Regions from separate parts of the Homo sapiens genome. Here region 2 is linked to region 1. Evidence: fine-mapped expression QTL. Tissue or cell type: hypothalamus. Region 1 holds a variant in brackets; the other region holds the start of a gene. All regions are shown on one strand. Distances are between the middles of the regions.

Region 1 (8,103 bases):
GGAATTCAGGCCCACCTGACCATCATTAATATCAACACAGACTTTAAGACTGACAAAGCCAGGCCAGGTGTGGTGGCTCATGGCTGTAATCCCAGCACTTTGAGAGGCCATGGCGGGTGGATCACTTGAGGTCAGGAGTTTGAGACCAGCCTGACCAACATGGTGAAAACCCATCCCTACTAAAAATACAAAAATTAGCTGGGCATGGTGGCGGGCGCCTGTAATCCAAGCTACTCGGGAGGCTGAGGCAGGAGAATTGCTTAAACCTAGGAGGCGGAGGTTGCAGTGAGCCAAGATTGCACCACTGCATTCCAGCCTGGGTGACAGAGCGAGACTCCATCTCAAAATAACAACAACAATAAAAGACTGACAAAGCTGACTCTTTGTAGCAATGATACCAAATTCTAGCCTGTTTCTAGTAGAGCATTATGTGACTGATCAAGGCCCTGAAGGAAATTGAAGTATTTTACCCCAAATTATATTTCCTTGCTGTATCTTAAAACAATCCTGCAAGGCTGCCTATTGTGGGGGAAATCCACATTCTGAAGATAGTATCCTTGCTTTGCTAGGCCTTTTTCCTGATCCAGGAGAGAATCAACTCTGATAATAAATAAATAAACAAAGAAAAAAACAAAAACCATTTACAGGCCGGGCGCGGTGGCTCACTCCTGTAATCCCAACACTTTGGGAGGCTGAGGCAGGCGGATCACCTGAGGTCAGGAGTTCAAGACCAGCCTGGCCAACATGGTGAAACCCCGTCTTAACTAAAAATACAAAAATTAGCCAGGTGGGGTGGTGGGCGCCCGTGATCCCAGCTACTTGGAGGCTAGGGCAGGAGCTTCAACCCAGGAGGCAGAAGTTGCACTGAGCTGAAATTGCACCATTACACTCCAGCCTGGGCAACAGAGGGAGGCTCCATCTCAAAAAAAAAAAAAAAAAAAAAAAAAAAAAAAAAAGAACTTCCAGGGGCTAATTTTGAAGGAAACCAGGCTCAGAGACCCAGATGTGGATCCTACTGCTCTGGGGCAGTTAGGAAGAGTGAGCCCACCACTACTGGGCCAAAGTCAGGATGATGCAAGCTGGACCTTCAGACAGGGTGTTACTCGAGATCACCTTCGGAACAAGACATGCAGCCCTGCACCCCCCTGCACCCCCTTGCACCCTTCTGCATCCTCCTGCACCACCCCCACATGTTTCCCACACCAAGTTTTCCTTCCAAAACCTCTCACTCAGCCCAGAAGACAGAGGGTCTCTTGGAGGCATGAGCCCAGCCATGTCCCATCGGCTGGCATTTGTTTAATAAACGGCTTTCCTTCCACCACACCTCGCTTCTCATGTTTTTGGTCTTTGAGCAGCCACGCTTGAGCTGGTTGCAGATCTGGTGCCTTGTGTGAGGCACTGTGTTGTGAGTGGCTCAGCCTGTGTACCTGGTTTCCAATGAAGGCAGAGATTGGCCACAGCAGTCCCAGGATTTACCCACTCTTGCTGTCAGGCAGGACAGCAGCTGCTTGAAAATGCCAGCTGCTCATGGCCAGCTGACCCCAAGGCTAGGACCTTAGGGAATTCCTAGTGGCTGCCGAGACTGCCTTTGTCTTGGGGATTTTCCCTTCCCTCTCCTTCATGACATCAGCATCTCTCATGCTCTGCTGGTGGGAGGGAAGCAGTATGTGGGATGTGAACTGAAGTGCACCTGGAAATCCTCTGCATCTGCCATCTGGGGCTCTAGCTGTCTAGAGCTAGTATTGGTAGTCTGTGGTGCCACCTGGGTCTCTGTGCCATCTGGACCTAACGCAGGTAACTCTGTGGTGCCGCCTGGGTCTCTGTGCCATCTCGACCTAACGCAGGTCGCTCTGTGGTGCCGCCTGGGTCTCTGTGCCATCTGGACCTAACACAGGTCACTCTGTGGTGCCGCCTGGGTCTCTGTGCCATCTGGACCTAACGCAGGTCACTCTGTGGTGCTGCCTGGGTCTCTGTGCCATCTGGACCTAACGCAGGTCACTCCATGGTGCTGTCTGGGTCTGGGACAGGACCTCAGGACTTTGCTCCAATCTCCCCTCTGTTTGGAGGGATCTGTTTGGAGGGCTGTGTCTACATTGGATCTATTTGTGTTTGTGTCTCTGTTTAGTGTTGCACCCCCCTCTGAGGGTGCTTAGGCACAGTCTGCATCCCAATGGCCAAGACTAGGTCCATCTGGTTGTCAGAAAGTAGCAAGATAGGCTGCCCCTCTCCTCACTAGGTGTATTTGTACATTTTCACACTGCTGATAAAAACATACCTGAGACTAAGAAGAAAAAGAGGTTTAATTGGGCTTACAGTTCCACATGGCTGGGGAGGCCTCAGAATCATGACGGGAGGTGAAAGGCACTTCTTACAAGGCGGTGGCAAGAGAAAATGAAGAAGATGCAAAAGCAGAAACCCCTGATAAAACCATCAGATCTCATGAGACTTATTCACTACCTTGAGAACGGTGTGGGGGAAACTGCCCCCATGATTCAAATTACCTCCCACCTTCTCCCTCCCACAACCTGTGGGAATTATGGGAGTACAATTCAAGATGAGATTTGTGCTGTTATGACCGTCCTTGAAGATTTCCCTGAACCAGTTAACATTGTCTCTGATTCAGCGTAGGTACTACATGTTGCTCACAACAATTGAAACTGCCTTAATCCAATTTCTGCCTGATGATGACCTATTCTTTCTTTTTCAAAGGTTTCAGTCTGTGCCCAGAGCAAGGTCTTCTCCTTTCTACATTACTCACATTTGGGCCCACACACCCCTCCCCGGACCCCTCTCGCAGCAAATGCTAGAGCTGATACATTAGTTACTCCCGTTTTTACAGATGCAGGTGGAGGAGTAGAGTCTTCTCTAAACTCCCCCGGGGAAAGGGAGACTCCCTTTCCCGGTCTGCTAAGTAGCAGGTGTTTTTCCTTGACACTGACGCTACCACTAGACCACGGTCTGCTTGGCAACGGGCATCTTCCCAGACGCTGGTGTTACCGCTAGACCAAGGAGCCCTCTGGTGGCCCTGTCCGGGCATAACAGAAGGCTCGCACTTGTCTTCTGGTCACTTCTCACCATGTCCCCTCAGCTCCCATCTCTATATGGCCTGCTTTTTCCTAGGTTATGATTATAGAGCGAGGATTATTATAATATTGGAATAAAGAGTAATTGCTACAAACTAATGATTAATGATATTCATATATAATCATGTCTATGATCTAGATCTAGCATAACTCTTGTTGTTTTATATATTTTATTATACTGGAACAGCTCGTGCCCTCAGTCTCTTGCCTC[G/A]GCACCTGGGTGGCTTGCTGCCCACATCTCCCCCCTTTATATTAACTAGGATCACCATCGCCATCATTGCTTGTCATTGACTTCGGACTTGTTTTCGGACTCCTTGGAGGCATCTGCAGACTAAACGGAGACAACATAAGCATACCAATACTAATAATGCCAGTGACAACAATGATCCTCCAAGGGGTTTGATCCATTTAAAGGGATTAAGATCAGATAATTCTTTAGTTATTCCTTCAAAAATGTCTGAGCCAGGAACAGTGGATGAATGAGCTTGTGAAGCCTCAAAAATTTGCTCTTTAAGTTTTGAAATATCCAAGGTTAAGTTATCATCCCAGGCTTTTAAATGTCTTGAGACCTTTTCCCAGCTATGTTGACCTTTATTATAAGCATAAGGCATTATGCAATAGTCAGAAGTATTCCAATCACACTGTAATTGCATAAGGTGTTCCAAATTCATAACTCTGTCTCTGAGCCACATTACACTTTGACGGAGATCATTAATTTGATTGGCTAATTTTTTATCAATTTGAGCCTGAGAATTCCAAAGTCCGGAGGAGTTTTTCTGCCGTGCTTTAACATATTGAGCGGTTTGAACATAATTGTAGATGGCAACTCCAGCAGCTGCTGCTGCTGCAGTAACTGCAATTAGACCTGCAATGACGGCAATAAGAGTAAAAATAAATCTCTTTGTTCTTTTGAGGATAACTTTAAGAACTTCATTGACTATGTGAATAGAGGGGGAAGACTCCCAAGGACGATGTAGAGAAACTGGTATCCATACCTCCTCCCTAGCCCGTACCAAGAGAATACTTGTAGTGGGAATGAAAGTAGCATCAATGCATGTGAACAGCTGACAGTTATCACATTCTACAGTTTGTGTACTGGGAATGATAATTATATTTCCAACCAACAGCATGTAAGGGGGTTTGACACAGCTCCTGATGGGTATCACCTGTTCAGATATCAAGGTGATGTTGAATGTGTGTGTTTTGGTATTAGTGTGAAGGAGTTGATAGGTAGTGTTCCGTATCCTTATTCCTGTCATAGCTGCAGCAATTTCCATAATTCAGGATGTTCTGGGGTAACAATGGGATGAATCATTTTTGGTGTAGGGGGAACAATGCCTGCGTCCATCCATTTAAATGGGTAAGGAGACACCCATTGTCTCAACCTGTATGACTGCCATCCATCCTCTATATGATCTTTTTTCTTTTCTTTCTTTTTTTTTTTGAGATGGAGTCTTGCTTTGTTGCCCAGGCTGGAGTGCAGTGGCGCGATCTTGGCTCACTGCAAGCTCTGCCTCCTGGGTTTACGCCATTCTCCTACCTCAGCCTCCCGAGTAGCTGGGACTACAGGCGCCTGCCACCACGCCCAGCTAATTTTTTGTTTTTTAGTAGAGACGGGTTTTCACTGTGTTAGCCAGGATGATCTTGATCTCCTGACCTTGTGATCCACCCGCCTCGGCCTCCCAAAGTGCTGGGATTACAGGCATGAGCCACTGTGCCCGGCCCATCCTCTATATAATCTAACAAATAGTTAAACTCCGAGCATTTTGTATTTTGGGTGGAGCAATTTCGCCAATAATGCCCTTTTGGAGCCCAGTCAATAACAACACCCGTAGGTAGGGTTTGGAACAGTATGGCCTTCGGAGTATTAGAATCATTTCATAAGATTGAATTTAGTTAAAAAAAGAAAAAAGGCCCCTTTGTAGGTTTCTTGGAGCAGGCTGGCAGTCCTTTTGTTTCTCAGAGTGCCTCATCCTTGGAGTTATAATGCAATTTCAGTCGCTGGGAGGGAACCCACGCGGGTTGTTGTCCTTTTCCTGGGGAAACACAAGCGAAAGCCCTAGCCCAAGTTATGACTCTGTCTAATTCCCATTTGTTAGTTTTTGCGTCCTTTCACCATACCCGCATTCGTTTTTGTGGATCAAATTTATTTCCAGTGACATGTGGTTCTGTGGCTGTAAAGTTTGGTTTCTTGCTGGGTGTAAGAAAGCTCGTGTAAAAAGAGGCAGGTTTAACTGAGCATGAGGTGTGGTGCCATCCCCCTTTGTTTTATGTCCTGCTTTCGAAGTTGACCTTTCAGTGTTTTATTGGCTCGTTCCACCGAGGCCTGTCCTCGAGAGTTACAGGGGATGCTGGTTGTGTGAGCAATTGCCCACGTCTCAGTGAACTTTTTAAAAGCAGCACTAGTGTAGCTGGGGCTGTTATCAGTTTTCAGTTTCTCGGGACAGCCCATAACGGAGAAACAGGAACGCATATGTCGTTTACCATGAGCTGTACTTTCCCCTGCGTGACAAGTGGCCCAGATAAAATGAGAAAAAGTGTCGATAGTTACATGTATAAAAGAAAGCTTGCCAAAAGCAGGATAATGAGTCACGTCCATTTGCCAGAGAGCATTCTGTGAAAGTCCTCTAGGGTTAACTCCTGAGGAAAGTGGCTGTAAGATTAACACTTGGCAAGTAGGACGGTGACGAACAATGGTTTTAGCTTGTTTCCATGTAAGGGGAACTTTTTCCGGAGTCCTGCAGCATTGACAGGTGTTAAAGCATGAAAATTTTCTGCATCTGTAAAAACGGGAGGAACTAATGTATGAGCTCTGGCATTTGCTGCCGAGAGGGGTCTGGGGAGGGGTGTGTGGGCCCGAATGTGAGCAATGTAGAAAGGAGAAGACCTTGCTCTGGGCACAGACTGAAACCTTTGAAAAAGAAAGAATAGGTTATCATCGGGCAGAAATTGGATTAAGGCAGTTTCAATGTTGCGAGCAACATGTACTACATACGCTGAGTCAGAGACAATGTTAACTGGTTCAGGGAAATCTTCAAAGACGGTCATAACAGCAGGCAGTTCAGCTCGTTGTGCTGAAATAGCCCCTGTGTTAAGAACACGTTCTCTGGGACCTGTATATGCTGCTCGGCCATTACAGGAAGCATCAGTAAAAACAGTGACAGCTTCAGCTAATGGGGTGTTTCTAGTAATGTTAGGTAAAATCCAAGAAGTGAGTTTAAGGAACTGAAATAATTTTACATTAGGATAGTGATTGTCAATTATACCCGAGAAACCTGCCAAGTGTACTTGCCAAGTGATACAGGTTGCAAAAGCCTGTTGAACTTCTAATCGGGTGAGGGGAACAATGATTTTTTTGGGCTTAATAACCTGACTTCTAGCTGCATTGCTAAATAGTGATAAGGAGAAGAAGTCTGGATTTTTTTTTTGTGGAGGGGGCGCAGTAACCAAACCGGCTGCTGCAACTGTTTGTTGTCCTGCAGAAAAACAAGATATTAACACGGAGCGTGAAGGTGCCGCGAGATCAGCTGCCTGCTGAGTAAGATCAGCAGGCTGTGGCTGATTTTGTGCCGCAGGGACGGCAGGTATTGGAGGTTGTAAAATTACAGGAAATTGCCAGGCGTTGGGATCCCCATATTTTCTTGCCTGTGCTATAGCCCTCATAAGAGGAGTGTCATTTTGAGGAATCTATGTAACTTGTTGCTTGTGAGCAGCAAGGGTAGACGAGATTACCTGCCGAGCACGTCCTTCATGGGCCTGAAATTCAGGCTGCTGTGGCAACTGCGGACCAGGCTTCAAAGGAGTCTGTGACTCCAGGGGAGTCGGATTAGTAGGAAAGGAACCAGGTTTCAAGGGAGCCTGTGACTCTAACCGAGTCTGATTAGGAGGAAAGGAAACAGGCATGAGAAAACCAGGCTATGGAGGGATAGGGTTGAGGGCCTCATTACCGGGCGGAACAGGCAGAAGGTTGAGACCCCTACAGCAGGGCTGAACAGGGACAGGGTTGAGATAAAACAGGAGGGTTTTTATAAAGCTTAAATAAGCTGAGTACTTAGTACTGGCTTGTCCCATGGTGTCCCCGGAATACTCTGAGTGCTCTAGCTTACCACCAAGCTTACTGACCACAATCCTCAGGAATCTCTGGTCAAAATCCTCTGCTGAATCCCACACTCAGGGTGCAACTTCACACAGCGAGAGAGAGCCCCACGTTGGAGCGCCGGATGTAGGGACCAGCCCCACAGTGTTGGTGCGTTCTGCTCCCCATGTGCGGAGATGAGAGATTGTAGAAATAAAGACACAAGACAAAGAGATAAAAAGAAAAGACAGCTGGGCCTGGGGGACCACCACCACCAAGACGCGGAGACCGGTAGTGGCCCCGAATGCCTGGCTGCACTGTTATTTATTGGATACAAACCAAAAGGGACAGGGTAAAGAGTGTGAGTCATCTCCAATGATAGGTAAGGTCATGTGGGTCACATGTCCACTGGACAGGGGGCCCTTTCCTGCCTGGCAGCCGAGGCAGAGAGAGAGGGGGAGAGAGAGAGAGAGACAGCTTACGCCATTATTTCTGCTTATCATAGACTTTTAGTACTTTCACTAATTTGCTACTGTTATCTAAAAGGCAAAGCCAGGTGTGCAGGATGGAACATGAAGGCGGACTAGGAGCGTGACCACTGAAGCACAGCATCACAGGGAGACGGTTAGGCCTCCGGATAACTGCGGGCGAGCCTAACTGATGTCAGGCCCTCCACAAGAGGTGGAGGAGCAGAGTCTTCTCTAAACTCCCCCAGGGAAAGGGAGACTCCTAAGTAGCAGGTGTTTTTCCTTGACACTGATGCTACTGCTAGACCACGGTCTGCCTGGCAACGGGCATCTTCCCAGACGCTGGTGTTACCGCTAGACCAAGGAGCCCTCTGGTGACCCTGTCTGGGCATAACAGAAGGCTCGCACTATCGTCTTCTGGTCACTTCTCACCATGTCCCCTCAGCCCCCATCTCTGTATGGCCTGGTTTTTCCTAGG
Region 2 (8,103 bases), 180 kb before region 1:
CAGAAGAAATTTCTAAGCGGCAAAGCATTTGAGATGTGAGCTGGCTTTTTCTGAAAGTGTACAGTCATGTGCGTTCACAAGGAGATGATCTGAAATTGGAACTTATGTTTAAAAGCAAAGCAGGACATAAAAGTTTGGAAAATTTGCAGCCTGACTATGTGGTAGAAAACCCATTGTCTGGGGGAGAAATTCAAGCCATCAGCTGTAGAAATGTCTCCAAGACATTTCAGAGAGCTTCACGGCAGACCCTCCCATCACAGGCCCAGAGGCCTTGGGGGCAAAATCAGCTCCAGTCAGGGCCAAAAGGGGTCAAGGGACAGCCCAGGCGGAGCCCGTAGGTGTGCAGAAGACAAGAGGTGAACTTCGGGAGACTCTGCCTAGATTTCAGAGGATGTATGGAAACACCTAGAAGTCCAGGCTGAAGTCTGCTGCAGGGGCAGAGCCCTCATGGAGAACCTCTGCTAGGGCAATGCAGAGGGGAAATGTGGGGTGGGAGCCTCCACACACGGAGTCCCCACTGGGGCACTTGTAGGGACCAGCCCTACAGGGTCAGTGGGTCTTTCTCCCCATGTGCAGAGATGAGAGATCGTAGAAATAAAGACACAAGAGAAAGAGATAGAAGAAAAGACAGCTGGGCCCTGGGGGACCACTATTACCAAGGCGCGGAGACCGGTAGCAGCCCCGAATGCCTGGCTGCGCTGTTATTTATTGGGTACAAGACAAGGGGGCAGGGTAAGGAGTGTGACTCATCTCCAATGATAGGTAAGGTCACGTGGTTCACATGTCCACTGGACAGGGGGCCCTTCCCCGTTTGGCAGCTGAGGCGGAGAGAGAGAGGAGAGACAGCTTACGCCATTATTTCCGCATATCAGAGACTTCTGGTACTTCCACTAATTTTGCACCTGCTATCTAAAAGGCAGAGCCAGGTGTACAGGATGGAACATGAAAGCGGACCAGGAGCATGACCACTGAAGCACAGCATCACAGGGAGACAGGCCTCCAGATAACTGTGGGCAAGCCTGACTAATGTCAGGCCCTCCACAAGAGGTGGAGGAGTAGAGTCTTCTCTAAACTCCCCTGGGGAAAGGGAGACTCCTTTTCCTGGTCTGCTCAGTAGTGGGTGCTTTTCCCTTGGCACTGACGCTGCCACTAGACCACGGTCCGCTTGGTAACAGGCGTCTTCCCAGACGCTGGTGTTACCGCTAGACCAAGGAGCCCTCTGGTGGCCCTGTCCGGGCATAACAGAAGGCTCGCACTTGTCTTCTGGTCACTTCTCACCATGTCCCCTCAGCTCCCATCTCTGTACGGCCTGGTTTTTTCTAGGTTATGATTGTAGAGCGAGGATTATTATAATATTGGAATAAAGAGCAATTACTACAAATTAATGATTAATGATATTTACATATAATCATATCTATGATCTAGATCTAGTATAACTCTTGTTATTTTATATATCTTATTACACCGGAACAGCTCGTGCCCTCGGTCTCTTGCCTCAGCACCGGGGTGGCTTGCTGCCCACAGGCACTGACTAGTGGAGCTACGAGAAGGGGGACACTGTCCTCCAGACCCCAGAATGGTAGATCTACCAGCAGCTTGCACCCTGCACCTGGAAAAGCCGTAGGCACTCAGGGGCAGAGCTTCCCAAGGCCTTGGAAGCCCACCCCTTGCATCAGTGTGGCCCTGGATGTGAGACATGCAGTCAAAGGAGATTATTTTGGAGCTGTAAGATATAATGACTAACCCACTAGATTTTGGACTTGCATGGGGCTTTTAGCCCCTTTGTTTTGGCCAAATTCTCCCTTTTGGAATGGGACCATTTACCGAGTGCCAGTACCTCCATTATACCTTGGAAGTAACTAACTTGTTTTTGATTTTACAGGTTCATAGGCAGAAGGGACTTTGTCTCAGATGAGACTTTGGACTGTGGACTTTTGAGTTAATGCTGAAATAAGACTTTGGGGGACTGTTGGGAGGGCATGATTGGTTTTGAAATGTAAAAAGGACATGAGATTTAGGAGGGGCCGGGGTAGAATGATATGGTTTAGCTGTGTCCCCACCCAAATCTCATCTCGAATTGTAATCCCCACATGTCGAGGGAGGGACCTGGTGGGAGGTGATTGGAGCATGGGGGCGATTTCCCCCGTGCTGTTCTTGTCATAGTTCTCACAAGATCTGATGGTTTAAGTGTGGCACATCCCACTACCCCCGCCGCCATGTAAGACGTGCCTTGCTTCCCCTTTGCCTTCCGCCATGATTGTAAGTTTCCTAAGGTCTCCCCAGTCATGTGTAACTGTGAGTCAATGAAACCTCTTTTCTTTATAAATTACCCAGCTTCAGGTAAGTTCTTCATATTAATAGCAGTGGGAAAACAAACAAACACAGTGACCTTATTTGATCAAACATGATGATGATCGACTAAAGATGAGGTCACTAGGGTGGTCCCTAATCCAACAGGGATGTTGCAGAAGAGACCCACCTGGAGAAGGTCGTGTGAAGATGGAGGCAGGGATGGGAGCAGTGCATGAGCAAGCCCAGGACACCAAGCAGGCCTGGCAGAGCAAGACATGCGTCAACCCTCAGGGCTGCAGAGGGAGCATGGCCCTGCACACTCCTTGATTTTGCACTTCTGGCCTCCAGGGCTATGAGGAAACACGTTTCTGTTGTTTTTAAAACAGTTGTTGTTTTTAAAACCAGTTTGTGATGCATTGTGACAGAAGCCCCAGGAAACTCATCCATACTGAGTGAAATTTGTTTATTGTCTAAAATACAGTCCCTCCATCATCTATCCCTCCTATCATTTCTGGAATTTATAGACATCCAAGTCACTCCCCATATCCACAGAAGGCTCAGGCACCTGGTTCAGAATCCTCATTGTCCTGCCAGCTCCCACCAGCAGTCTGCAGCCTCGGCCCCAGCCAGTGTCACTTCATCCCATTCCCTGGACATCTGGTTCCAGGACCACAGCTCCATCCTTGGCGTGGTCCAGAACTTGCTCCTACCTCTCTCCCCCATTCTCCCTCTTTCTCCCCCCCATTCTCTCTCCCTCTCTTTCTCATTCTCCCTTCTCCTCCCTCTTTCTCCCTCCCTCTCTCTGGAATCTCTGGTTCCAGTTGCCCATCACTGACTACAGCTTGCAGCTGTCCAGGTATTTCTCATCTACATCCACTCAGCTCCCTCCCGGCCTCTGTTCTTCCTCCCTCAGGGGTATTCTCCCACTCACCAGCACCTGTTGGATCCGCGGCCATTTCTAACCGGACTGGATACTTGGACCTCAAGGTCCCCGCTGGTAAGATAGCTGGGAGACACTCGTCTGTAGGTCCCTCTGGCAGGTCTTGCTGGGCGTGCCAAGAACACATTGCCCTGACCACTCTTTTCTGGGCCATTTCTCACGCCTGTGCTTGCAGTGGGCACCCTTGCCGGGGAGACAGCCTCCCTGTGGGACAAAGACCACATTGGTCCACAGGATCCAGGGTCCTGTTTTGTAGTGCACCCGCTGTGGTGCAACATGCGTCTGGGCACACCAGCGTCGCCCGTTTCCTGTTGTAGTCTTTCCTCTCTGACTCCAGGGGTATTGGGTCTTTCTGCCAGCGCCCATGCAACTTTGGCAGCCTGGCCTGTCTGCTGGCAAGTGGGGCAGAATCCCTGCACTCCACCATTCTTGGGCAACACTCCCTCTAGGATTTTGGCCTCCCTTTTCTCTCTGGTCTTTGACCACCGCTACCCAGCAAACTCCTCCATCTAGACCAGCCAGCATTGGTTTCTTCCACTCCCCCAGCTGCCGCGTGGGAGGCGCCACTGCAAACTTCCCTGGGGTCTCCCAGCTGCTCAGAGATCCCCATGCCCTTCCCTGATCAGCTCCCTGCCCGGTTCTCATCCCGGCGATTCTAAACCGTCCATCTTTACAAATACTCCGCTCCATCCCCACTCCCTGACTGAAGTAAACAGATGTATCCTGAACTCCTCATTCTCCCCCCATCTCACTCTCCTCGCCTGTGTGCACCTCGCCTCGTGTGTCTTCCTCACCTCCGAGCAGAGGGATCTGTCCTCCTGCCCGAAGGTAACCCTGACCCCTGGACTCTGCGCCTCCTTCCCGCAGCCTCCACCAGATTGCGGGTCCGTTCACCGCCCCCCTCCACACGCGCTGGGGGCACCTCCGGGAGCTGGGGCTAGCGCAGGGCACACACATGTTCCACCTCGAACTGCGAGCGCTGACCGGGATCTCTGGGCAGCCCTCTCTGTGTGCACTGGCTTGCTGAAGGCTCGCGACAGCCTGGGCCCGGGCGCGCATTCCAGCACTTTCTACCCTCCGGCTTCAGAGTGCATTGCTCTGTGGATCCGTCACGAATAAGCCGTGTGTGAAGAACGCCAGGTCCCGGCAGAAGATCGCTGCCCGGCGTGCGAACTCCCCCACGGTGCACCAGGGCCGCCGCCCTGCATCCTCCAACCTCAGCTCCCCGGCACCGCGACCCTCCGTGCAGTGCGAGCCCCCGATGGGCGCGCGCCCCCACCTGCGCTCCAGAAGGCCGAAGGGGGCATCCCACTTGCAGGGCGGGTCACCCGCTTTCCCCGCGGGCCAAGGGGCTCCAAGATTCCCAGCCCCTCCTTCCCAGCCGCTCCGCGACACCCTGGCAACCGGCTTCGGCCCCGCCCCTTCTCGTTGTGTAAACAGGAAGTGAGCCTGCGCGTGACGGTCGCTTCCGGCCCGGCGAGGGGCGGGAGCGATTGTGAACGGCGGCGGGGCAGAGCCAATCGCGGAAAACGGCAGGAGGAGAGCCAATCCCGAGGGTCGGCGGACGCGGGAAGGGGCGGAGCCAGAGGCGGGGCCGGCAAGGCGGAGCCAATCGCGGCGGTCCGCGGGGCGGGGCCGGGGGCGCGGCCGGGTGGTGGCGGTGGCTGCGGCGACGGCGGTCGCGTCGGCGTCAGGGTCGGGGTCGGTAAGGGGTGCGGCAATGCTGCAACTGCGGGACTCGGTGGACTCGGCCGGTACGAGCCCCACGGCGGTGCTGGCGGCCGGCGAGGAGGTGGGGGCAGGCGGCGGCCCGGGCGGGGGGCGGCCGGGGGCGGGGACGCCGCTGCGCCAGACACTCTGGCCTCTCAGCATCCACGACCCCACGCGCCGCGCCCGCGTCAAGGAGTACTTCGTGTTCCGGGTGAGGCAGGGGCCAGGGCCGGGGCGGGGGCCGAGGGCGCGGGGCGGGATGGGGGCGGGTGGGGTCGGAGGCGGGCGCCGGGCGGTCCCGCAGGGAGCGAGCTGTGACCTGTGATCTTTGCCCCCGTCCCCCACCCCGCAACCCGCCCAGCCCGGCAGCATCGAGCAGGCAGTGGAGGAGATCCGCGTGGTGGTGCGGCCCGTGGAGGACGGCGAGATCCAGGGAGTGTGGCTGCTTACCGAGTAAGCCGGGGCTGCGCTCTCCTTGGTGGGGGGACTCGCCCCGAGCCGCCGCGCAGCACCTTGCGAGGACTTCCCGGGGTGCTCGTGCCACGCTCAGGCGCCCCGTGCCGCCCCTGCTGCCCTTCCAGGCGGGCTGGCCTTGGCTAAGTCGAGACAGCCGCGTCCAGTGTGGACTGAGGCCCCTCCTCTGCCTACAGGGTGGATCACTGGAACAATGAGAAGGAGCGGCTGGTGCTGGTCACGGAGCAGTCCCTGCTTATCTGTAAATACGACTTCATCAGTCTCCAGTGCCAGCAGGTGGTGCGGATAGCGCTCAACGCAGTAGACACCATTTCCTACGGAGAATTCCAGTTTCCCCCTAAATCGCTCAACAAGTAAGCCTGTTCAGAGTCCAGTATCACTGGACCTAAGCACCAGAGTGGACCTTACAATTCAGCCCTTTTAAATCAGCCCCCCAAGCGGTGTGTCTTCTCTGTCATTAATTATAAGCACAAAGGCTCCAGCTCCAAATATCAATGGGAAGTTCCTTAAAAAGAAGCGACTTCTGGGCAATTGAGTGCATTAAAAGGAATTCTGGCACAGAAGGCAGCTATTAGGCTGGTAGTAAAAAGACTTACATGAGTTCAGGATGCATTGAAGTAGAGCCCAGCGTGTTAAAAAGGAACTTGGATGTTCTTCAGGAAAAGTCCAAACTCTGCATTTTTCTCCAGCCAGGGACAGATTGCATATGACACATCAAGTCTTGCTCTGGCTAATTTTTTAAAGAGAAATGGAGGGTCCCGTTGTAATTTATAGATACCACTAAAAGACAAATTTGGAAATATTTAATGACCAGCTTTCAGGAGTTGATCTTTTTGCTGTAGGATAATTTTCTGACGTGAGGAACCTAAACATTACTACAGTCAGTTAAGCTGTAGAACTTGGGTTTTTGATGGAGAGATTTGGATGGGGGATTCAGGAAGCTAAAATAAAAATTTTACCTTTTGGTTAAAACATTTAATATGACATAAGGAAAAGGAAGATTACACTTCCTTTTCACTCATTTGGCTAGCCTATCTATAATTATTCCCTTTTTTTTTTTTTTTTGAGACGGAGTCCCACTCTGTCACCCAGGCACCAGTGGTGCAGTCTTGGTTCACTGCATCCTCCACCTCCTAGGCTTAAGTGATCCTCTCACCTCAGCCTCCCAAGTAGCTAGGACTACAGGTGCCCGCCACCACACCCAGCTAATTTTTGTATTTTTTGTAGAGATGGGGTTTTGCTAGGTTGCCCAGGCTGTTCTCAAACTCCTGGGCTCAAGAGATCCGCCCATTTTGGCCTCCCAAAGCGCTGGGATTATAGATGTCAGCCACCGTGCCCAGCCAGTATTCCTGTTTATTAATTTTTAATCATGTAAAGATTACCAAAATAATACATTTAATAACCAAAATATACCTAATTTGTCATATTTATACCCACAGTATTTAAAGCAATTGTTAGTGGAGATTGAAGTTACTACTAAAAACCACAGGCCGGCCAGGCACGGTGGCTCACGCCTGTAATCCCAGCACCTTGGGAGGCTGAGGCGGGCGGATCACCTGAGGTCAGGAGTTTGAGACCAGCCTGACCAAAATGGATAAACCCTGTCTCTACTAAAAATACAAAATTAGCTGGGTGTGGTGGTGCATGCCTGTAATCCCAGCTACTCCGGAGGCTGAGTTGGGAGAATCGCTTGAACCCAGGAGGTGGAGGATGCAGCGAGCCAACATCAGGCCACTACACTCAAGCCTGGGCAACAAGAGCAAAACTCCATCTCAAAAAATAAAAATAAATAAAAACAAAAATAAAAACTACAAGCCGTTTTCCATTGTGATATGTCATAGGTCTTTTCTGTAAACGTGTGCTTTTTGCTGTCATATTCTCCTAACTGATGAGACTGTCAGATTGTCCATGAGAGCACTGTGGCCTGCCATGCTAAGTCTGGCTATTTCTTCTGACTTTTCAGGCGAGAAGGTTTTGGGATTCGAATTCAGTGGGACAAGCAAAGTCGTCCTTCCTTCATAAACAGATGGAATCCCTGGTCTACCAACGTGCCCTATGCCACTTTCACAGAACACCCGATGGCTGGCGCAGATGAGAAGACAGCATCTCTGTGTCAGGTAAGAAGACAGGCACATAAATAGCCGCGCCCCCCGCAGTGATGGAAACACCCCCCGCAGTCACGGAGACACTTCAGGTCTGCACTGTCCGGCGGCCACGCGGAGCTGCCGAGCACTTGAGACGTGGCTAGAAATGAGAGAGGAAGCTCTCATTTTAGAGTTGATTCCCTAAGTTGTCAGAAATTCTGGTTAATTTATGTTAAAGTAGCCGCATGTGGCCAGTGGCTGCTGGTTAGCATAGCTCCATAATGTGGCCTCCTGATGGTGATCTGGGTGGGGAAGGGCCCCAGCTGGGCTTCAGAGAGTGGCAGCAGACCCAGCCGTGCCAGATGACCAGTGCGGATGCGCACCAGGAGAGGAGGCCTCGGGGCTGGGGTTAGAGCAGAGCCCAGAGCCCAGAGCCTGGCGGGGGTCCTGCACTTCCCCAGCTGTGTGCCTCGGCCTGGTTACTGACCTGGTAGGTTGGGTGACGGCAAAGCCACTCAGCCCTGTATACAGGAAGGGTTCTGCAGGTGCTGGCTGCCATTGGCCACAGGAGAGCATGGTGGCAAGATTTCCACACACCTAGAG

The links. PIP is the estimated chance that this variant, and not a neighbour inherited with it, causes the effect.
Region 2: TPRG1L starts here. The variant in region 1 is fine-mapped to the expression of TPRG1L in hypothalamus (GTEx, PIP 0.98).

The regions. Positions count from the first base shown.
Region 1 is chr1:3,798,629-3,806,731 of GRCh38, forward strand. No RefSeq gene overlaps it. Among named protein-coding and RNA genes, the nearest start is that of LRRC47, 6.2 kb to the left of the region's middle. The variant G/A (reference allele first, on the strand shown) is at 3,295.
Region 2 is chr1:3,620,121-3,628,223 of GRCh38, forward strand. TPRG1L (tumor protein p63 regulated 1 like) reads left to right here and starts at 4,895. Exons shown (of 5, transcript NM_182752.4): 1 at 4,895-5,153; 2 at 5,304-5,395; 3 at 5,593-5,769; 4 at 7,380-7,533. The coding sequence starts at 4,953. It also overlaps a transcript of MEGF6 not described here. RefSeq lists enhancers at 4,169-4,288, 5,269-5,931 and a silencer at 4,739-4,968.